Linked DNA regions of Homo sapiens. The protein of the gene in region 1 interacts with the protein of each later gene in a biochemical or structural test. Each region holds a gene or a part of one and is shown on either strand. Other genes may lie near its edges.

Region 1 (12,123 bases):
TTTAAGAGACAAGGTTGCCTAGGCTGGAGTATAGTGGGGTGATCATAGCTTACTGTAACCTCCAACTCCTGGGCTCAAGTGATCCTCCTGCCTCTGCCTCCTGAGTAGCTGGGGCTACAGGTGCAAGCCACCATGCCTGGCTAAATTTATTTTGTGGAAATGAGGTCTCATGTTACCCAGGCTGGTCTCAAGCTCCTGTCCTCAAGTGATCCTCCTGCTTTAGCTTCCCAGAGTGCTGGGATTACAGGTGTGAGCCATCAAAAAGCAATTTTGAAGGACTGAGCAGAAGAAGAGAACCCATAGAGGGAGATAGGGAAGAGGTAAAGCAGGAGAGCTCAGGGTCACAGGGGGAATGGAACGTATTTCTTAATCTATCCAGTTGGTTGAAAGAGCTCATTTGGTATTACTGACTCACTTGGGATAACCATCCCATTGTTACTAGTAGATGTGATCATTCACAAAACAGCCATTCTTTTTTTTTTTTTTTGTTGAGACAGAGTCTCATTCTGTCACCTAGGCTAGAGTGCAGTGGCTCAATCTTGGCTCACTGCAACCTCTGCCTCCTGGGTTCAAGCGATTCTCCTCCCCCAGCCTCCTGAGTAGCTGGGATTTACAGGCACCCGCCACCATGCCCAGCTAATTTTTGTATTTTTAGTAGAGATGAGGTTTCACCATGTTGGTCAGGCTGGTCTCGAGCTCCTGACGTTGTGATCCGCCCACCTTGGCCTCCCAAAGTGCTGAGACTACAGGTGTGAGCCACCACCTTTTTTTTTTTTAACTTTAAAATTTTTCTTTAAAATTTTCCCCTTCATGGCATTTTTATTTTCTTTTTAGAATATTTTAATGATTTTGAATTTTACTTTTATTAATAGCCCTTACCTACCCTACATATTTCATAAGTACCTGTAGAAAACCTTATAGTAGCTGGAGCATGGTGGCTCATACCTGTAATACCAGCACTTTAAAAGGATGCTGAGTGGGGAGGATCACTTGAGCCCAGGAGTCTGAGACCAGCCTGGGCAACATAGAGACCCAGTTTCTAGGAAAAAAAAATAAAAATTAGTGGTCGTGTGCACCTGTAGTCCTAGCTATTCTAGAGGCTGAGGTAGGAGGATCACGTTAGCCCAGGAGGTTGAGGCTGCAGTGATGCGGTGAACTGTGATTGTGTCACTGCACTTCAGCATGGAAAGCAGAGCAAGACCCTGTCTCAAAAAAAAAAAAAAAAAAGAAACAACCTTGTAGCCCTACTTTCTTGGACTCATCAGGGTATTCCACAGTCTTGCTGCAACAGGGGAATAGTAATTCCTCCTGCCATTATCTTAGTTGACTTTTGGAACAGTTCTGTTAAGTAGGGAGAATTTCCCCCATTGACAAGTGAGGAAGCTAAGGCTTTGGAAGATGGAAGTTGCTACAGTGAGGTAGTTGCTGAGCCAGAACTGGAATTCAGACCTGTGATCTAGGATGATCTAAGATTCCTCGTCTTAAGACTGTGATCTTTTCCACTGTACCAACTGCCTTTGCAGGATGTCTGCTGGGTTCCCTTACCTCCTGAAAGATAGGATTTGACTCTGATTTGTTCTGTTGCCCTTTCCAAATTTCTTTTGCAGTTAGTTTGTTAAAGGTATATTGCTGCCTTCTCAACTATCTATGTCAAAGATTTTAAAAGGTCAGAGGTTAGCCTTCAGGACATCTATTTACTTACCTACCTTAACAATTCCTACTGTAGAGCAGGACATTTAAAGGACAAGAAAGGCTTTATTTCTGCCTTGTCTCTCTCCATGCATGCATTCTTATAGCATGACAAAGTTGGCAGTATACAAGTTTTGGAAGCAGGCCTGAGTTCAAATCCCAATGTTCTATAATATGGACATGATTTGTGATTGAATAAAAAAAATTTTTAAATGTGCGGCATTTGTGAGATAATTGGAAATTTTAACGTAATTGAATATCTAATATCAAGCAGTCACTACTTTTTTTCGAGTGTGACGATGTGGGTAGTTTAAGAAAAAGGCCTTATCTTTTAGAAATAAATACGGAAACATTTGTGGATAAAACGTTGGGCTGTTATTTGCTTACAAAAGTTGTGGGAGTAGATGGGGTGTGGATTGGATGGTTGTTGGGACAGGATGATTAGTACCTAATTCTGTCTGCACTTACGTATGATTGAAATTCTCCCTAGGATGTAGAACTAAAAAAGAAAAAAAAAATCCCAATACTCTCTGTCTTAAGTTAGGTAATCTACTCAACCTCTCTGAGCTTCAATTTCCTTATCTGTAAAATTGGAAAGATTATAACTATGTTGCAGGTTTGCTGAAAATTAAAGTAACATATATGAAAACATCTGGCATAAAGCCTGATGTTAGTAGGTGCTCAACCAATGGTTGCTGTTTTGTTGTTTTTACTATTTTTGGAGACTTGGAAAACATTAAATCAGTTGTTATCTCTGAGCCTGGGGGTCCATGTTTCCTCAGACAGGGACACATCTCCACTACTAATAGGGTAGTTCTTACTATGTTTCCCAAGAGCATTTTCCTTACCCTTGCTTTCTCCTTTTCCAAAGCTACCTTAAATAAAGGGAGGTTTATTATAAAGGAATTTGAGAGTCCATAAAACAGTATCAAGAGATGCAGGTTGGTCTTTTAGTGAAGCAGAACTGGAACGCTTCAGCATCCAAGGTAGCTACTCTGCCTTTTCTGCTTCATCTTTTCTTTCTGTAGATCAAAGGTTGGCAAACTTTTTTTGTAAAGGGCCAGTTAATAAATATTTTAATTTGTATAGCTTCATACAGACTCTGTTGCAACGACTTAACTCTGCAGTTCTAATGCAAAAGAGCCATACAAAAACAATAGTTGTGTCTGTGTTCCAATGAATCTGTACTTATAAAAAAGGGCAGGGAATGGATTTGGCCCATGGACCATAGTTTTCCCATGTCAGCTCTAGACTTCTGCAGATGGCTCCAATTACATGTATTCCATCACAGCAGACTCCAGGTGGCGCTGTCAGTCCTCAAGTTCACATCACCTAGTAAATTTAGTACTTGTAACTAACTAGCTCTCTTCCAATTCCAGATTCCTAGGGAAAGGACTTCAGTTGTGTCAGGTGTCACTATCCAACTGTGTTGCCTTAAGGGCGGAAATGTGTGGCTAGCAGCCCTCTCAGCAGGGGCTGTGGGTAGTCTCTCCTGAGAAGAAGGAGCAAAGGGTATGGGTGATGGGCAACTCTTAAAGAAAAAAGGTATGGGGATGGGCTGGGTATGTGCCCCAGGGTTCCCCATAGATCCAGGAAGATCACCTGTTTATTCTGCTTTTATTTCTTATAATCTGTATTTTTTTATGTTGAGGAACTTATTTTTAACAATTAATTTGAGTATGAACTCTAATAAAAAGCTGACTGTAATGCATAGTTTAAAGTTTAAACCTTGCCGAGCAATAACAATCTCTAGATGTCTGTTGTTTCACTCTAATACTTACTGTGGAATTACACCTGAGTTGTTTTCCTTCTTTTTTATGAGCCTAGGAGATCAGCCATAACCTAGGAGTTTGCTACATATACCTGAAGCAGTTCAACAAGGTAATTTATAGAAGTGGTGATAGATTTCACTGAGGGTGCACTTGTTGCAGAAGTTGTTACATTGCTCATTTGGTATTATCCCTAGTGCTTGCAGAGGTTTTTGGAACTGAAAATTGAAAGTACCTTTATACATTTTTTTCTGTTTTAATTCTCACTTGTCATTATTCATCTGTTGTTTTCTGCTTGTAATAAGAACATGGAAAGTTCTAGAAATATGAGGGAATGGCAGTTTTTCTCCTTTCTTCTTTTTCTCTACCTCCAGTTAAATTTCCCAGTTTAGAAACAGATGCTTAATAAAACATACATATCAAAAAGTGGACCCTTAAGTCTTAAAGGTGTGATCATGACCATGTGAGCTATCTCCATGCCCTGACGGCAACTTAGTTTTTAGGGTCATTGAAAATAAATTTTAAATTTTAAGTGGATCTGATTTCTGAGTTTTCAGTTTTAATTTTATAGTTATTTTCCATGATGAGAAATTATATTTCACTGTGATTAAGCTATAGACTCCTATATCAGAGAAGACAAGTTGAGCTTACCTCAAATTTGGTACTCAGGTAAGAAAAAGTATATATCATAATTGAGGAGTAGACAAAATTACTGAGAGCTCTAAAACTTAGTGATGAGAGCGTTGGGTAGTTTCCTTCATAGAGCTCACAGTTAGTGATTGTGAAGTTTTATTCTCCTTTCTCCGATGCCACCAGGACTGAGAATCTGAATTGGTTAGTACCCATTTGACAATGTTTAGTTTGTGTCAATTTGCAGACTGGTGTAACTAGTATCCCACACTGGTGTGAAAAAAAATATGCACATTAGCAGTTGGGGTGTAAAAGTAACTTTTCTCCTGAGATAACAATATATATACATAAAATACATTTAGTGGGCCCCTTAGGTTTTGTAGATGGATCTATAGTTTTATATACTTGGTTAGGAGATTTTTCTCTTCAGAGACAATTTCAAACAGGCACATTTCTATTCACAGGATTATTCTGAGTCAGGGGAAAAGAAGGATTTGTCTTTGGTTGGATCTGTGCTGAGAAGAAATATATTTAGATTTTACTGTACAGCTAACAGGCTAGGCAAATACAATACCTGGCATTTATATAAATGCTTGTTGAATCTGTGAATGACTAAACAAAGCCCTTTTGTTTACTAGGAGAAGGTAAGCTCCTCCAGAGCAAGGAGTTGGTTTTATAAACTCAAATATATTTAGCATCTAGAACAGCAAGCAGTTGGGTGAATAAATGAGAACAATCTATTTATTCATTTATCATCACATTGATGGGGAAACCTGGCCCACCATAGGGAAGGTTGTGCACTTGGTCAGTGTTACAGCTGGGATTTAGTTTAGTGTAGTACTCTACACTGTACTATGATGGCCCTTTTGACTTATGAAGTATGAGTCATAGGTGTGAATATCAGGCAGAAAACATTCAGAAAGATTAATCGTCTTGTATAAATTCTTCCAAGTGGCTCCAGAAGCAGATATCCCATGTTGCCAGCTGTCTTTTCAACAAGGACAGTTTTGGTATGTTTTGGTCTTTGGGTAGTGGGGGCTGTTTGCTGAAATGTGATGTTCCTATGTCAATACAGCAGAAAGTGTCTTTACATTAGCCATATAAAGGTATAGTTCGTTCAGTGGTAGTGATTTGGTTTTCTTTATTTTGTTAAACTTGTCAGGCACAAGACCAGTTGCACAATGCCCTGAATCTTAATAGGCACGATCTGACTTATATAATGCTGGGGAAGATCCACTTGCTGGAGGGAGACTTGGACAAGGCCATTGAAGTCTACAAGAAAGCAGTGGAGTAAGTGTATCTGTTTCCTTTAAAACAGTGAGAAACTAAAAAAATTGAGTGGATATGTGAACTCCCAAGCCTAAAAGAGTGAATATGTTTGATTAATTACTTACTGTATGAGTTAAAGGTTAAGCTGAAGTTTAAGAGCTCCCAGTAGCTTCAATAAGGTAGACTGTGTTTCTTTCTTACCTATAAGGATGACTGCTGCTTTAGGTTAGCTGGGCAGCTCTATTCTACAAGGTCAGCCAGGGATCCAGGTTTCTTCCTTATTAACTCACCATTCCTTAGGCTGTTGTCTTTACCTGCATGGTTGATGCTGAATGTAACATCCACATCCAGGCTGTGGTGGAAGGAGATGGTTTGGGAAGCTAAGCATGGAATAAGCATCTGGCTATATATATATATATATATAGAGAGAGAGAGAGAGAGAGAGAGAGACATGATCTTACTCCATCACTCAGGCTGGAGTGCAGTGGAGAACACAGCTCACTGCAGCCTCAACCTCTTGGGCTAAAGCAATCTTCCTACCTCAGCCTCCCAAGTAGTTGGGACTACAGGCATGTGCCACCATGCCCAGCTAATTTAAAAAAAAAAACTGTTTTTGTGTTGACAGGGTCTTGCTGTGTTGCCCAGGCTGGTCTTAAACTTCTGGGCTCAAGCGATCCTCCTGCCTCAGCCTTCCAAAGTGCTGGAATTACAGGTGTGAGCCACTGCACCTGGCCTTGGTAATAAGTTTTAAATGACCCAGAAATTGCACACATCGTTCCTGCTTACATTCCATGGTTCAAAACTACATGATAGTTACAAGGGAAGTGGGCAGACATGCACTCAAGAAGAAGGAAATAACAGATTTAAGAGTTGGCCGACAGTCTGCCATTTTGGTATCATATGTTAATAACAGATCTTCTGTTTTCAGAGATATTATTAGGGACAGAAATCTCCTGATTCAGTAAAAAACAAAACAAAACAAAACAAAACATTTGGCCTTATTAGCATGAGACCAGTATCTTTTTTCCCCCTTCCCCATTTTCCCTTCCCCTTCCCCGTTTTCCCCTTCCCTTTCCCCGTTTTCCCTTCCCCCTTTTCTCTTCCCCCTTTCCCTTTCCCCCTTCCCCCTTCCCCCTTCCTCTTCCCCTTCCTCCTTCCCTCTTCCCCCATCCCCCTTCCCCCATCCCCCTTTCCCCATCCCCCTTTCCCCATCCCCCTTTCCCCATCCCCCTTTCCCCATCCCCCTTTCCCCATCCCCCTTTCCCCATCCCCCTTTCCCCATCCCCCTTCCCCCTTTCCCCTTCCCCCTTTCCCCTTCCTCCTTTCCCTTCCCCCTTTCCCCTTTTCCCATCTCCCTTCCCCTTTCCCCTCCCTCTCTCCCTTCCTTCCTTTTTCTCTCTTTTCTTTCCATCCTTTCCCTCCCTCCCATTCCCATCTTTCTTTGTTTCTTTCTTTTCTTCCTTTCTTCCTTCCTTTCTTTCCTTCCTTTCATTTATTTCAACAGTCTCGCTCTGTCGCCCAGGGGTGAGTGCAGTGGCGCGATCTCGCCTCACTGCAACCTCTGCCTCCTGGGTTCAAGCGATTCTCATGCCTCAGCCTCCTGAGTAGCTGGGACTGCACGAGCACGCCACCACCCCTGGCTAATGTTTGTATTTTTAGCAGAGACAGGGTTTCACCATGTTGGTCAGGCTGGTCTCGAATTCCTGGCCTCAAGTGATCTGCTTGCCTTGGTCTCCCATAGTGCTGGGATTGCAGGCGTGAACCACTGCGCCCAGCCTTGTGTTGTTACTTTTAAATGGGATAGCTGTAGCAAAATGCCTTGTCTCATTTGTTTGGTCCCTTAATAGAATGTCTGGTCTGTGGTTCAAGGCTTATTATTCCTAATAATTAGATTCTGAACTAAACTTAGATTTCTATTAATTTGTTAATCATCTTTGTCTTCTACCATGGTAGTAAATTTTCTGGTTATATCAGTCACAGCACTGCTTTCTGAATTTTCTTCAACCATATTTTGTGTCTAAAACAGAAAAATCCCTTGGTTTGTTAAGCTACAGAACAGACTTTTGTCATCAAGAGGCTGTATATTTGGGCAAGTAGTAAGGAGCCATGTAACATGTTCAGTGCCTCTGTGGTGCTAGGTAGTAGCCCTGATCCCTGACCCCTGCCTTCTAGAGGTTAGCTCTTTGAGAATAGCATACATAAATCCCAAGGGGAACATTCTTCCAGTAACTGATCAAGGACTTTGGTCACTAAATTTCCTAAGGGAGAAATGTGGACAGCTAAAATCTGAAGCCTTACTGAGAAGATAGAGACCATTGTTCATGACCTACAGCTTTGAAGAGAGTAGTCATGTTGTAGTGGGGAAGCCAATATTGCTAGAATTACAGAAGTTACCTGGCTTTGGGGAGGGAAGTGATCAAAGTGGATGTTTATTATGGCAGAAAGTGAAAGGCGGATTCCCAGTTGAATTGAGAAAGCTCTGTTTGGTCAGCTCAGGCCTCCCCTGGCTGGGGCTTTGCATCTTCTGGTTCAGGTCTTCCTATAGGTAACCAGTGCCCTATATCATTCCTTAGAAGCAGAAGACATTGTTCATAGCCCTTTGGTGTTTTACTGTTGAAACTGTCTGATGATCCTATGGTCAGATCATCTCAACTCAGTGTTGCCTTGGTTTTGTGACAAAGACAAATACTAGTGAGGGATTGAGCAGGCAATCCCTGATGTGAGTATTTTACTTACATCAGTGTTTACTCCCAAAGGTCAGTAGCACCTTCTTTCCTAGGATTGGTATGTATCTTCCTTCTTTTGTTTAGTTTGGCTACTTGGTATAGCTCTTTGTTTAAGTGGAGAGAACAGCATTAGGGGCCTTGGGATCCTAAATTACATAGAAAATTATGCTGCCTGGCATTGTGAGCACAATGAGGATAGAAAAAAAATTCCACAAGAGAGGACTGGTGAAACTGTGTGTGTTCTAGGCTGACTTGGTTTATAAAGCATTGTTCTTTAATTTTATCAGTGTGACCAAGACAGTCATGCAAAACATTCTATAGGTTCTTTCTTAGGACTTTTACCCTAAGAAAGGAATCTGAATTCTAAGCCTCATTTTTCTTGCTGAGCAGTTCTCCTTATCACCAGGGTTGAGATGACCTACTTTTGATGGCAATTCCCAAATTGCCTTCAGGTATTTCCACGGGGAGGAAGAGGCTCAGTGGGGTCTGTCAAGTATTGCACGAGGGCATATTACTGTGCATGTGTCTTCGTGTTTCTCATCTACATCTTGTTTCCCTCTGAGCATCTCTATGTTGCAGGTTCTCACCAGAAAATACAGAGCTTCTTACAACTTTAGGATTACTCTACTTACAGGTAATGAAAACTCTGTACTCATTCATGCACTGATGTTAGAAATGGTTTTGGGTTTGTGTGTATGGTGGTTTTCCTGCATTCTGATATTTATTTTATTAAAGGTCATATAAAGTTCATGAACTACACTCTCTCTATTCGATACTCTTTGCTAAAGGAATTAATTTTCTGCATTTAAATTGGAAGCAATTCTATTTTAGCCTAGTGCAATTATAATTCTTATCTAGGCTGGGTGTGGTCTCATGCCTGTAATCCCAGCAATTTGGGAGGCTGAGGCTGGTGGATCACTTGAGCTCAGGAGTTGGAGACCAGCCTGGGTAACATAGTGAGACCCTGTCTCTACAAAAAATAAAAAAATTAGCCAGGCATGGTGGCATGCTTCTGTAGTCCCAGCTACTTGGGAGGCTGTGATGGGAAGATTGCTTGAACTCGGAAGGCAGAGGTTGCAGTGAGCTGAGATTGAGTCACTGCACTCCATCCTGGGTGACAGAGCCAGATCCTGTCTCAGAAAAAAAAAAAAATTCTTATGCTATCCAGGAAAGAGCATATATGAGAAATAACTCTGGTCTTGGAGGCTGTTATTTTGTTGTGAGGAGAGAAACAGATACAAGTGAGCACTTAGGGCTTTGGGGCAAAGCCATTTCTTTTGATCTTTCTTCCCAGCCAGAGTCTTATTGGAAAGAGAGAAGGCAAAGTATACTTTTATCTAGAATAAGAAGTTTTCTGTCCCCTCAACATTCCTGAATGTGAATGGGATTCTTTTAGCTCCATTGATTCTCTGGCTGAGGACCCAGGGCCCAGGTATCCAAGGGGCTTTTCCCTCTTCCCCAATATACACATTTGCCAAGTTCCTTGGTCAGCTGATTCTGCCTCCAGCCCTGCCTCTGTGGTGGCCTTTATGTCTATTTCATTTTTCTTTAAAAGGAATCAGGAGCTTAACCCTGGGTCTTCCTGGGCTTTGGCTTGGGAGGTTGGCTCCACGGGAGATGAGGATACCCAGCTCATTTCCTGCAAAGAGGCATTAATGTGGAACAGTACTAGTGTGGCAGAGATGGTTCTTATCAAATAGATACTTTGACCTTATCAGGTGACAAATTAACAAAAATAGAAGGAAAACCATGACTGGGGATTTTTAGTTTTCTTTCTTTATTATCTGGTAACTGTAGCTGCTTTTTTTTTTTTTTTTTTTTTTTTTAAAGTCAAGAGAACTCAAAAAAGCCAGAGCATTTCTGTTCTGGGTGAGGTTGGCCAGACTGTTTTTTTTTTTTTTTTTTTGGAGACGGAGTTTCACTCTTTTTGCCTAGGCTAGAGTGCAATGGCGTGATCTCGGCTCACTGCAACCTCTGCCTCCTGGGTTCAAGCGATTCTCCTGCCTCAGCCTCCCAAGTAGCTGGGATTACAGGCATGTGCCACCATGCCTGGGTAATTTTGTATTTTTAGTAGAGATGGGGTTTCTCCATGTTGGTCAGGCTGGTCTCGAACTCCTGACCTCAGGTGATCCACCCACCTTAGCCTCCCAAAGTGCTGGGATTATAGGCATTAGCCACCACGCCTGGTCTGGCCAGACTCTTTTAACTGCCGTCTCCTTGCTGATGTAAATTGTCTTGTTTGCTTTTTTTCCAAGCTCGGCATTTACCAGAAGGCATTTGAACATCTTGGCAATGCACTGACTTATGACCCTACCAACTACAAGGTATTACAGGCTGTGAAGGCTCTGGCCTTCATATAGACGGTCCCACTGCTCCTAGAGGTGATCTGACCCTGGAAAGCAAAGGAATAGCTTCTTAAATTTGGATACCTGAGAAATAGAAAAAATATAAATAAAAGGTGGCTCTTCTTATTTGAAAATAGTGTCAAGTATGCTCTACTTATCTTCTAAAAGTGCACATTTGTTATAATAGACGTGTAACCCCTGCAGAAGGCAGATCATAGTGCTAGTAAAGCTTATGTGTTACTTAGGAAATTAGCAATGCCTCCACAACTATTGTCAAAAATAAATCTGCGGCCCGGCGCGGTGGCTCACGCCTGTAATCCCAGCACTTTGGGAGGCTGAGGTGGGCAGATCACGAGGTCAGGAGATCGAGACCATCCTGGCTAACACAGTGAAACCCCGTCTCTACTAAAAATACAAAAAAATTAGCCGGGCGTGGTGGCGGGCGCCTGTAGTCCCAGCTCCTCGGGAGGCTGAGGCAGGAGAATGGCGTGAACCCGGGAGGCAGAGCTTGCAGTGAGCTGAGATCACGCGCCACTGCACTCCAGCCTGGGTGACAGAGCGAGACTCTGTCTCAAAAAAAAAAAAAATAAAAAATAAAAAAAATAAATCTGCTGGGCATGGTGGCTTATGCCTGTAATCCCAGCACTTTGGAATGCTGAGGCAGGAGGATCACTTGAGGCCAGGAGTTCAAGACCAGGCTGGGCCACATAGTGAGACCCCCATTTCTACAAAAAAAATTATCCAGGCATGGTGGCACACACCTGTAGTCCTAGCCACTCGGAAGGTGGAAGAGGGAAGATCACTTGAGCCCAGGAGTTTGAGTCTACAGTGGGCTATGATGGCACCACTATACTCCAGCCTGGGTGACAGAGACCCTGTCTCTAAAAAGAAACAATAATTATGTTGAAATGACTTCTAGAGTCCTAATGATTTGATACTACAACTTTTTTTCTAGATGTGACTTTGGGAATGAGAAGGAATAGCATCAAATGGATGAACATCATTGAGGAGATGCAGCAAGACAAGCTGTTTATTAAAGGATACAAACTGAATTCTGATTTAGGAAGTAACATTAGACTGTCAGCTCCCACCTTGATACCTTTCCTTAGAGAAATGAAAGGGCTGGGCTGATGAAGCCTAAAGCTGACTCGCCCTCTGTTCTACGGTAGAAAGAAATTTACCTTAAGTAGCCACGTACAGGTGTATTTCAGGTATCTAGAACACTTGGTATACCAAATAGGGGCTGCAGAGAACAGATTAAAGGAAGTTTTTACTTAAAGGGCTCTGGTATTCATTCTGAAATACTGACTTTCCTGGCTAGAAGTAGGAAACAGATGGGTAAAGCAAGTAACATTTTATCTTTTTTTTTTTTTTTTTTTTTTTTTTTTTTTGTGCTGTGCCAGAGAGCCACAGTGTAGAGTGCAAGGACATTCCTCAGGAACATTTGTCCCAATAGGTTGGATATATTTATGTCCCTGGAAGAAATTTTCCAGTCCCATCTATGCTGATGGGCCTGCTGAGTATAGACTCAGGAAAGCTGCCCCACTGCTACAGCCTTTTGGGAATGACTGAATGACTTTCTCTGTGCCATGTTTTCAGGCCATCTTGGCAGCAGGCAGCATGATGCAGACCCACGGGGACTTTGATGTTGCCCTCACCAAATACAGAGTTGTGGCTTGTGCTGTTCCAGAAAGT
Region 2 (12,123 bases), on another chromosome or scaffold:
GAGTGTTTCCCCTGTGTTGTTGGTTTTCCTGTGTACAGTAATTGTGACTGGGTTTTGACCTGTGAGTGTCCATTGGCGCCTGTGGCCATTATTGCCTGGCAATCCAGACCACGTCTGGCAGGCCCCAAGGCCCAGGCAGCTTTTTGAGAGCCCCTCTCCTGCCTGGCCTGGGGACATGAGCCATTCACAACAGAGGAGAGTGGGTATTTTGTGGAGTTTTCTCTTTACTGGATAGTAGTGTCCCCTGCAATTAAGATCCCGTATTCACCTCTTATTAATTCTAGCACTTGTCTGTATGTTTATAAGTGCTTACTGCTGGTTCAGTGGGGCCTGGGATGAGTCCTAGAGAGGGAAAATTAGATCCTGGATGAACAAGAATTCCCCATTCTCTGAGTGAAGAGTGCTGAGAAGACTGAGAGTATGTGGATAACTGAGCTGGTAATTTGCGGGGACCAAGAGTTCAGAATACTTTATATTTTATTTTTATTTTTTGGAGACAGGGTCTCACTCTGTTCCCCAGGCTGGAGTGCAGTAGTGCAATCTCTGCTCACTGTAGCCTCTGCCTCCCGGATTCAAGCAATTCTCCCACCTCAGCCTCCTGAATAGCTGGGATTACAGGTGCATGCCACTGTGCCCAATTTATTTTTGTATTTTTTCGTAGAGATGGGGTTTTACCATGTTGGCCAAGCTGGTCTCAAACTCCTGACCTCAAGTGATCCGCCTGCCTCGGCCTCCCAAAGTGCTGGGATTACAGGCATGAGGCACCGCACTTGGCCTCTGAATACTTTTTTTTGAGATGGAGTCTCGCTCTCTCTCCCAGTCTGGAGTGCAGTGGCGTGATCTCGGCTCACTGCAAGCTCCGCCTCCTGGGTTCACGCCATTCTCCTGCCTCAGTCTCCCAAGTAGCTGGGACTACAGGTGCCCGCCACCAACGCCCGGCTAATTTTTTGTGTTTTTAGTAGAGACGGGGTTTCACCGTATTAGCCAGGATGGTCTCGATCTCCTGACCTCGTGATCCATCCGCCTCGGCCTCCAATAGTTTTGGGATTACAGGCGTGAGCCACCACACCTGGCCCCGGCCTCTGAATACTTTAGAGTCATTAATTAATTCTCTCAGAAGTACTTGGGGAGAGCCTCCCATGTGTCATGGGTACCAGGGAAATACCTTCTCTGCCCTCAAGGAGCTTCAGTCTAGACGGGAGGGCAGATAAGAAGCCCAGCCCCTGTGTGAGTGCTGTGTTGCAGGATACCAGGGACATGCAGGGGGGATGCCTTTGATTCCCCACTGGCTGATTGACCACCTTGGTGATGTGTTCAGCAGATGATTACTGGGCTTTTTCACTGTGTGTGGCTCAGTGCGGGGCTTGAGGGCATCCTTGAGTGGATAAATGGTAACACCCCCTCAAGAGTTTATGATGTGGTAGGAAGGAAGACCCTGTAGCCAAGCTAGCAAGATTATGAGACAATATGAGGAACTAAAGAGAGATTGCCGTGTCTCCTGTGAATAAATCAGTTACTTCTACCAGAAACGGTTTCAAAATGAAGTCGTTTTGAGGCTGAGCTGTGAGAAGGAGAGACTTATCCTTCATGTCTTATCCCCTTAACTCACTGGCACCCTCCAGTGCCCAGGTAGGTGGGAACAGCATTTCCCTCTGCTTTAACCCTGTATGGCACACTGGGACTTGTAGCTTTGGTCACATGCTTGGGGGCCAGCCTGGCAGTGTTGCCAGCTCCCTCCTCTGTAGCATCCTCAGTCTGGCATCGAGATGGCAAGGGGCCTGGCAGGAATTGACGGAGCTCTGTAAGCAAGTTTGAACAAGGGCATCAGTAAGTCTGCTGTTCTGGAACAGGGAAGGCTCATGGAAGCCAGGCCATAAAGTGCTAAGGCTCTGTCGTCACGGGGATGTTGCTTCTAAGGGTAGAGAGGGCTCCAGGGGCAACCGGGGGTGTGCGAATTTCCTCTTTCGGCCAGCCAGGGAGCTGCCTGGGCTTCTGAGGTCTCGGCAAAGTGGCAGACGTGCCACCAAAATATACCTAATGCAGTCATAAAATACACTCCTGCTGTTGCTGGAAGTGTAAGTAAACTGATGTCATATTTTTGGAGGGCCTTTTACTATTACTAATTAATGTTATAAATGACCATACCCTTTCACCTAGAAATTTCCCTGCTAAGGAACCTGTCCTATGGAAGTGCTTGCCCAAGTGCATATGCATGTGTGTGTACAGGTGTTCATTGCTGCATTATTTAGGTTGGCCACAAAAAGAGAGACCACAATCTAAATGTCCAGCAATAGAAGAATGGCGAGATACATTATGAAACACACAGAAAGGAATGAGGCAGTCTGTACCAAGTGATGGAGAACGGTGTCTGGAATATTTTGTTGAGAAAAAGCAATCTGGAAAGAATCACATTTTAATATTTTTTAATGATTTGTACAAGCATGTACTTGTATACATACAACAGTATGTCTGGACATTTGTCTGCTGAAAAAGTACTTGTTTCCTCTGCGGAAGGAGGGGCAGGCAGTGAAGAGGGAACTTCTACTTTGAATTCGGCACATGTCTGGTTTTATGAACAAGCATGTACTCCTTTTGTGACTTTTAAGAATCAGTACAAATTTTTTCAAAGGAGATAGAATGTGACGAAAAGCACACCCAGCAGGCTACCCAGAGGTGCATGTGTTCCCTAGGAGCTCAACAGGACCTGTCGGGCCATGCAGCAGCGCATCGTGGAGCTCATCTCCCGCGTGTCCAATGAGGAGGTCACCGAGGAGCTGCTGCATGTGAACGATGACCTCAACAACGTCTTCCTTCGATACGAGAGGTGGGAGCCGGATTTCTTTTTTTTTTTTTTTCCCTTGAAAAGATTGTTGCCATAACAGAGGGATTTCTTTCATAAACAAAGGAAAGAGAGGGAGAGGGAGAGAGATTAGAGTTGGAAAATACTCATCAGAGATGCTAATTTGTTCCCGGCTGACAGGAAAAATGCTTCTTGTCCTCCTGGGAACTGAGCAGCAGAAGCAGCAGGAAGTTGACGTGCAGAATTAGGCTCTGCCCTTTGTAAGCCTCAGGCTGCTCTGCCTTTCCCCACTGCCCCGCCACCCCCAGCCCCAGGGAGGGGTAGCACTTGGGGGCCTCTGGGCCCCAGAGCTTCTGCACCTGCTCCTTTGATGATCCTTTGAATTTGAAAAGGATTAAAGGGAAAAAAAATCTCTAGTAAGAAAAAGGATTTCCTCTTTCCCATCTTAAAAAAAAAGAAAAAAGAAAAAAAGCTTTTCCCTTTGCAAATGTCAATGTTATCTAGAGCATTCAGGGGAAGCAGGCGGGTGTAAGTGCCGGAATGCTGCTGCTTAGGGAAGCGTGCACACATTCATTCCAGTTCTTTCTGCAGCCAAATCATTTTTGAGTTTGAGGTAACAAACCTGCAAATTCTTTTTCATTTCCAAAGCCTTCCCTCAGGACAAAGTCCAAAATGTCTTATTTAGACCTAGTTTTAAATAGGAGGAATAATGGCAAGCACAGTTCCCATCTCATCACCTGATGGGAGCACACTGGGCTTTCATGAAGGACTCAGCATAAGGACCAGAAAGGACCATGATCAGGCCAACCTTTTCCCCTTAAAGATGAGGCTTGAGAGGACAGGACAGTGGCTTGAGTCCCCTGCAGATTTAAGGTCCTGGTCCCCTCTGCCGCACCAGCTGACTCACAACCTACTGCTGGATTCATCAGGAGGACAAGGACCTGGCATCAGTTAGGGTGAGTGGGACAGATGCTTGCATTTGCGTTACCCTTTGGGGACCTAAAGGGTGATTTTGTTATGGCTGTCACAGCCTTGGGCCTTGTCTCATCTTTTGACTACGGAAGTACACACCAGTGGCTCTGTGCCCACCTGACAGGTGAATAAACCTCTGCAGTAAGTGTGGGGGCATCCCCAGGACCCCCCAGTGCATCAGTTGGAGAACAGGAGCAGATATAAGGGGACCTGACTCCCAGCCCGAGGCCCCTTTGTCTTGCCATGTGATTCCAGTTTCTCCATGGTAAATGGGCTTGGGTTTAACCTATTAAACCTATTTAAGCCCTGCTAGAAAGCATAACAGGAGCTAACTAATATGAGTATTTTCACCCAAGAGTCTCCCAGTCCAAGCATTACACATAATTCAGAGGCAAAGCCTGGGGCTGGTGGCTGGAAGTGCTATCCTGGTTAGAGTGTCTTTGATGATACTCATTGTTCATTGAAGATGAGTGTGGGAAAGGTACCCCAGGATTAAAATTGTTTCAGATGTATTAATATTCCTGTTCTCCTTGTAGACCACTGTTGAAAAAACACACAAGTCGTTTTTAAAACCACAGTGGACACTCACTGCCTTACCCAGATCATTCCTCCTGGGGATCTCTTTCTTGTCACCAGCTGCTGACCCCAGCAAGTTGGGAGACAAATCTGGAGCAGCATAACTCACTAAAGCTGGGTGTCTAAGGCTCCAGCTGGAAAAAGTCTCTTAGCTACCGCTGCCCATGGCATTTGGAGTTTTTAAATACGATACAGAACATAATCTATTCTGCCCCACCCCAACACACACCTCATAACTACTCTTCCGTTCCCCACCTGACAGGAGGATGACCTGGCCTTCGACAGTTGCTCAAAGCCAACTCCCCCTGCACTGCCTGACTGGGTGCAGAGGACACTCACTCCACCCTCCTAGCAGTCCTTCGATGACTGGCCCAGGCCTCTCTGTAGCAGCTACTGGCGAGCATTTCCCCAGGCCGTAGCCAGGGCCATGCGTCCGCCTTCCTCCTGCTGGTGCCCACCCTATGTGTGCCCCACCCCCTTTCCCCAGAGGCTGAGTTGGGAGCATGTTAGGAACACTAGCTAGTTGCTCCTGAACACAGCCCTATGAAATAGGGAGTCTGCAGCTCCAAGGTAAGGTGGTTAAGCCACCCTCCCTCCAGGGCCCAGGTGTGTGAGGAGAGGCTGGGGACACTCACAATGACCTCCATGATGGGCCAGCCACCACCCCTTTCTGATGCCCACTCTGGGTGCTGGGTGAGAAGCTGATCCTCTCAGGGGGAGCCCCACACAGAGGAAGCCGTGGCAGAGTTGATATATGGTTTCACTCCCTAGCCCCCAGGTGGGACTGGCTGGTCTTGGTCCCAGGGATTCTTCATAGGACTAGTGAGCACCCCACAGGGCCATATCACAGGCATCCTCTCTCCTTACTTCTGCTTTCCCTTCCCCTGTTAGGTTCGAACGATACAGGTCTGGCCGATCCGTTCAAAATGCCAGTAATGGAGTAAGTATTCCTTCAGAATCCTGTCATCTCCTGAGGCCAGACCTACCCCTCCACGTTTTGGAGGCTGGAGAGACCTCCAGTTTTTCTAACTGGTTTTGAAATATTTGGGAAATTGAAGAGGCAAGCTCTGGTTGATGGGATACTAGGGCAGAGCTAGCAGGCACCCCTGATGGGAAGGTGGCAAGCAAGCCCTAAGTTTGCATCTCCCAGGACAGTCACTGTTGACTCAGCAACCCCTCCTTCTAGTGGGGACGGGGAGGAGGCAGTGAGCAGGGCTCACTGACATCCAGGCCCACCATGGACCTGGAAGGCAGGTGGGGGAAGTGGCCTTGCTTCTGTACTAGAGCAGCGCTGATACTTTTCTTCTTGGAACCCTGCATAGTTGCCTTGCCAGCTTCTACCTCAGAGCCTGACTCCAGGGTTCTGGGGCTTATGGCCAATCTCATGTTCTGACAGGTACTGAATGAAGTAACCGAAGACAACTTAATAGACCTGGGGCCAGGGTCTCCAGCCGTGGTGAGCCCAATGGTGGGGAACACAGCGCCCCCATCTTCCCTCTCCTCCCAGCTTGCAGGCTTAGGTGAGTGTCTCACAGGGACAAAAGGGCCTACCTACTTCCTACCACTGGCCTCCCTTGCAGGCCACCTCTCTTTCTTTCTTGGAAGACCCAAAGAGAGTCTTTTGGGAAATACATGTGAAAGTGTATTCCTGAGTCCTAGCCAGTTGTACCACCTTACTTTCAATTCATACCTTTTTTCCCCCTAAATTTGAAGTTTAAAATCTATGTTGGAAAGCAGGGATGGGGGAAATTCCAATGAATTAAAGAAAGGTCACGGCCGTGCGCAGTGGCTCACGCCCGTAATCCCAGCACTATGGGAGGCCGAGGTGGGTGGATCACCTGAGGTCAGGAGTTTGAGACCAGCCTGACCAACATGGCGAAACCCAGTCTCTACTAAAAATACAAAAATTAGCTGCGCATGGTGGGCACCTGCAATCCCAACTACTCGGGAGGCTGCGGCAGGAGAATCACTTGAGCCTGGGAGGTGGAGGTTGCAGTGAGCCGATATCGCATCATTGCACTCCAGCCTGGGCGACAGAGCAAGACACTGTCTCAAAAAAAAAAAAAAAAAAAAGAAAGGTCACCTGCCATGTTTTATATGGAACATTCCCTATGATTGAAGTAATTTCCTTTTCAATATTAACTAGGTCAAGGCCGGGCGCGTAATCCCAGCATTTTGGGAGGCTGAGGTGGGTGGATCACTTGAGGTCAGGAGTTTGAGACCAGCCTGGCCAAAATGGTGAAACCCCGTCTGTACTAAAAATACAAAAAAATTAGCCAGACTTGGTGGCGGGCACCTGTAGTCCCAGCTACTCAGGAGGCTGAAGCAGGAGAATTGCTTGAACCCGGGAAGCAGAGGTTGCAGTGAGCCGAGATCGCGCCATTGCACTCCAGCCTGGGGGACGACTCCATCTCAAAAAAATAAATAAATATTAACTAGGTCAAGGAGGGCAGATAGGTTTCAGCTCTTTGGCTTCTTGGAACACAGGTTTGAGGAGGATGCTGAAGCCACATCAGGGCTTAGAAAAGTCTGTGATTGATTGATTGTCAATATCTACAGAGGGCTTGGAAACAGGAGGTAGCAGCACTGAAATATTTGCTCTCCTTGAACTTTACCATCAGCCTAAAGCAGTCCATTGTCTGGAACTTAAAAGAAACTCACCACTTTCCACAGTTCATTTAGTTTGTACATTCAAAGTGTGTATATGACTCTAGCACATTGGTTATACTGGATGATACCAATTTATAACAAATGAAATTATAACATTGAAATAATAAGCATGGCCCTCAAAATTCTTTCCTCTGTCTTGCTTTTCTGTTTTCCTTTTTAAAAAATATTTCTCGTCTACTTTCCTTTCATTTGACTTGAGTTAAACTTCTAGTGGCTATCAGTTGCTGTAATTGTAGCTTCTCAATATTTCGTATATTTGTAGCCACTATTTCTGTATCAGAACAGATGTCTCTGCCTTCAGTCAGTCCAGCATATATGACTGCCAGATTTAATACTTAAAATTCAAAGTGTAACACCGGTAATCCCAAGACTTTGGGAGGCTGCGGCAGGTGGATCACCTGAAGTCAGGAGTTCAAGACCAGCCTAACCAACATGGCAAAACCCCATCTCTACTAAAAATACAAAAATCAGCTGGGCATGGTGGTGTGTGCCTGTAATCCCAACTACTAGGGGGGTTGAGGCAGGAGGATCGCTTGAACCCGGGAGGCGGAGGTTGCAGTGAGCCGAGATTGTGCCACTGCACTGCAGCCTGAGCAACAGAGCAAGATGCCATCTCAAAAAAGAAAAAAAAAAAAAAGCCGGGTGCGGTGGCTAACGCCTGTAATCCCAGCACTTTGGGAGGCCGAGGCGGGTGGATCACAAGGTCAGGAGATCGAGACCATCCTGGCTAGCACGGTGAAACCCTGTCTCTACTAAAAATACAAAAAATTAGCCAGGCGTGGTGGTGGGCGGCTGTAGTCCCAGCTACTTGGGAGACTGAGGCAGGAGAATGGCGTGAACCCGGGAGGCGGAGCTTGCAGTGAGCCGACATCGCTCTACTACACTCCAGCCTGGGTGACAGAGCGAGACTCTGTCTCAAAAAAAAAAAAAAAATCAAATTGGATTCTGCTACCTCTCTTCTTAAAAAAGGTATAGTAGGCCAGGCATAGTGGCTCACGCCTGTAATCCCAGCACTCTGGGAAGCCAAGGCAGGCGGATTGCTTGAGTCCAGGAGTTCAAGACCAGCCTGGGCAACATAGCAAAACCTCATCTCTACTAAAAATACAAAAAAATTAGCTGCGAGTGGTGGCACACACCTGTAGTCCCAGGTACTCAGGAGGCTGCAGTAGGAGAATCTCCTGAGCCCAGGAGGTTGAGGCTGCAGTGAGCTGAGATCATGCCACTGCACTCCAGCTTGGGCATCCAGAGTGAGACCCTGTCTCAAACAAAACAACAACAACAACAAAAGTGTAGTGTCCACCAGGGGTGGTGGCTCACACTTGCAATCTCATCACTTTGGGAGGCCGAGGTGGGAAGATCACTTGAGGCCAGGTGTTTGAGACCAGCCTGGGCAACATAACGAGACCTTGTCTCTACAAAATAATTTTAAAACAGCTGGGCATGGTGGCACATACCTGTAGTCCTAGCTACTTGGGAGGCCAAGGTGGGAGGATCACTTAGCCCGGGAGGTCAAGGCTAAAGTGAGCCATGATCATGCCAAGAGAGTAAGACTCTGTCTCTTTAAAAAAAAAAAAAAAAAAAAGTCTAGTGTCTTCCCACCCACTCCTTTACCTGGCATTTGAGGTATTACCAGCCACTTCCTCCACAAATTTTTTCCTGTGAGCGTTGTTCACTTCACACACCCTGGCCTCCAAACCCCGTGCCTTTTTATCTGCCTTTCCCCTTCTCCCCACAGCATCCTCCTCATTATCCTTACAGACCCACTGTTGTGTTGGTTTTGAGTCTTTCCTGATGTCTCAAGCCAAGCACTGCTGTGGCTTGTCTCTTGCCCACTCTGACCTTCTTGAAGCTGAGGACCATATCAGATTCAATTTGGTCTACTCAAGATCTAGCTCTGAACATGGTGGGTACCTAAGAAATATTTGCTGAATAAATAGATGTTCCAGGTCCTTGGACATTGTGATTGAGTTAATGAGGAGCCCAAGCGAGAAGGGCATTATGGAAAATCTGCAGGTGCACTGGCGCCAGTCCCTGCCTTGTCACCCCAGCAATCTCTTTTTTGTTATGACTCTTTCGCCTCCTTGAGCAGTTTGAGGGGCAGTGGCTGTTCTGTCCCCCATCTGGCCCGCCCTGGCTCCTCCGGCATGTGGTGCACTGGGAGTACCAAGGAAAGTCCCGCCCCACCCTCCCCATGGAACCTAAACCCACCTGGCTGGCGTCCTAGCTTGGGGGCCCTTCATCAGATCTACAGTCTACATTTTGTTCTCATCTGCCACCCATTTGTTTTGTTGCCACAGACTTGGGGACAGAGAGCGTCAGTGGCACCCTCAGTTCACTCCAGCAATGTAATCCCCGTGACGGCTTTGACATGTTTGCCCAGACGAGAGGAAACTCCTTGGCTGAGCAGCGCAAGACGTATGTGGGGCCCCTTTTAGTGGCTCTCTAAAGATATTGGGGGGATTGACCCATGCCTGGTCACAGGCCAGCACAAAAAGGCATTTATTTACCATGTCCAGGACTGCCAGGAACTTTAAAGCATGGCTGTAAGGACTTGGCATTAGATGCAGATACTGAATAAATACCAACTGCCCACCTCCTCCCCCACCCCCCCAAACACACACACACTCTCCTGCCCTTGGGGTTGATTGGAGTGTGATTTCTCCTGTCAGTTGTAAGAGACAGCTTTTCTCTTTTCTCCCCATGCTGCTGCTGCTGCAGACACCACCCTGCCTGGCCCCTCATCCACAGGAGAAGCTTGGAAGCAGGAGGGTGCAGCCATGCAGGGTGAACCCATTCCTTACAGCGAGATTTTCCTGACTAAAATAAGTGGTCAGAGCAGAGGCTCCTCTGATAGCAGCTCTGGCTAGGATGAGCCATCTGGAATTCAGGGAGTTGATTCCAAAAGAGAGAATCTCCTACATCTCAGGGAGGCACTGTACATGTTTTGAGCTTTCTGTTCAGCCTAAAGGCGGGTGAAACACACTTTTTCCCACCTTTCCCAGGGACCCAGCATCTTGGTGCACTCAGCACCCTGAGTCCTGCTTGGGGCTCAGTAGGGTAAGCAGAAACCCAAGGTCCCATGTACCCTTCACCACCAAAGGTTGATTGTAAAACAGATATAGCTAAAGGAGTCGGAGAGTGGAGGAAGACCTCCCATAATCAGTGACAGGCCCGGGTCCCAGAGACCACCTTCCCTGTCAAATGCCACTGAGGCTGCTGCTAATAAAATAAGAATTAATGTTACTTTGTGTTTATCTAGTCTTCCCTCTGAGGAGTATTAGGGCACTTTGGACATTCAGCTTCAGAGATGCTCAGTATTGTTACTCAAGAGAGGGATGTTGAGGTGCACAAAATCTGAGATCGCAGAGATTAGTGGCTCAGCCTGAGCTAGGACCCAGGCCTCCTAGCATCCACTGCAGGGAGACAGACAACATGAGCCCTTAGCCTCTGCTCAATGTCAAGGTTTCAGGAAATGTTTTTCCAAGGACATCTGAGGAAGGACCATAGGATAGAAGTGATTACAGGCCACTACCCCATCCCTCCATGACCACTGGAGGAAAATGAACTCTGCTTGTGCTGCTTCTTCATCTCCAGGGTAACCTATGAGGATCCTCAGGCTGTCGGAGGACTTGCTTCTGCACTAGACAATCGAAAACAGAGTTCAGAAGGGGTAGGTCTTTAACCCTGTTTTTCTGCCTGGAGTCTTCTGGAGGGAAAGTCAGGTGGTTTGGCAAAGCTGGCTGGGTAATTCAGCAGAAACTGGCTTGCACAGGGGGCAGGGACACCCTGGGGGAGAGACCCACGGGGGACACCCCGTGGAACCCAGGTAGTGCCTCATTGAGTCTTCACCTCACCCCGTGAGATGAGGCCACACATGAGCTTCCCAATCCACCCAAGAGAAAACAGTCCCAGGCAGGTGGGAGACAGGCTGAGACACCCAGAGAGCAGACAGCAAGCTGGGGTTCCAATCCTAGGATTAGTGTCCATTTCCAGAACCCCTGCTGTTCCTACCACAGTGGCCCCAAGTTCTCCAGGCACAAGTCTCCTATGGTCACCTGTTACAGTGCCACAGGGTGGTCAGTGCTCTGATAAAACCATGGCCTGCACCAGGAAGGACAATGCTGACCCGAGCCACATCTCTGATGGCCATTTGTCACTGGCCTAGCAGAGCAGTACCAACCCCATTAGAAGGCACTCGAGAGCCAGGGTTTGTTTACAGAGCTGGTGCAGTTGGGTGGTGGCTGGGAGGGTGTCCTGTGGCGGTGAGGGGGTGCGGCACAGTGAAGTGGAGGGAATGGTATGTGTTTGGGCCTCCCCAAACATAACCATGCTTTCTGTACAATTTCGGATTACTGAAGGGGAAAGAATGTGTGTCTTAATGCTTCTCATGAGATTTTTGTTTTTGCCTAACAAAGAAATGTGTATGAATGCACGTCTGTTTGCAGGGGCAGGGAGGAGGAGGGTCCTTGGAATAGCTGCCGACAACAGCTGGAACTCCTGTCTGGGTCCCCCAGCTGGGCTAGAGAGGGCAGTGATCATCTGTCCACTGGACAGGAAGGTTTGCAAAGGGCTGTTTGCTTACTGGGTCCCAATTTTTAGCCTTCTGAAGCCCCTGTCCAATGGGCCCAGGCAGGCAGCAGTGCTGGTTTCCACGGGATGCTCCTTCTTGGGGGAAGGGACTCACTCCCTCATCCATGCTGGTCTTCACCTGGTGGATCTGAGGGCATGCATCCCTCTGCACTGGTCACCAGAGGGCGCAGAAGAGCCAGCTGGCTGCCTTGGGTCCTCAGTGCCGTGCCTTTCCACAGGAGTGGGCAGTGCCACCTGAACCCCTGAGACTGGGACACTCAAAATCAATGCAGTGCTCATGGCTCTGATTCTCCCATTACTTAGAATGTCCTCCCACCTGCCCCAGCGTGGGCATTAGAGAGCCCAGCCAGGGGCCTACCAGGATACTGCCTGGTGAGGACATCCCCTCCTCGTGGCCAACCCTGGCCTGCACTGGGAGCAGCCCTGTTGTGCCCCTATGAGGCTGACCTCATTTGTCCCTCACTCTGGGTCCAGGACCTGCCTTGTCCATGCCAGGGTGTGTCCTGCTGCACCCC

The links.
Region 2: the proteins of BBS4 (region 1) and TOM1L2 form a complex in vitro, tested with the Homo sapiens proteins (one study listed by BioGRID).

What each region holds. Positions count from the first base shown.
Region 1 is NC_000015.10:72,719,278-72,731,400, forward strand, and holds part of BBS4 (BBSome complex member BBS4), read left to right. Parts: intron 1-3,511; exon of another isoform or gene 3,512-3,516; coding exon 3,517-3,570; intron 3,571-5,250; coding exon 5,251-5,378; intron 5,379-8,662; coding exon 8,663-8,717; intron 8,718-10,338; coding exon 10,339-10,407; intron 10,408-12,027; coding exon 12,028-12,123.
Region 2 is NC_000017.11:17,860,041-17,872,163, reverse strand, and holds part of TOM1L2 (TOM1-like protein 2), read left to right. Parts: intron 1-2,690; coding exon 2,691-2,824; intron 2,825-5,239; coding exon 5,240-5,288; intron 5,289-5,744; coding exon 5,745-5,868; intron 5,869-9,315; coding exon 9,316-9,433; intron 9,434-10,612; coding exon 10,613-10,688; intron 10,689-12,123. UniProt on the Homo sapiens protein: Acts as a MYO6/Myosin VI adapter protein that targets myosin VI to endocytic structures. May also play a role in recruiting clathrin to endosomes. May regulate growth factor-induced mitogenic signaling.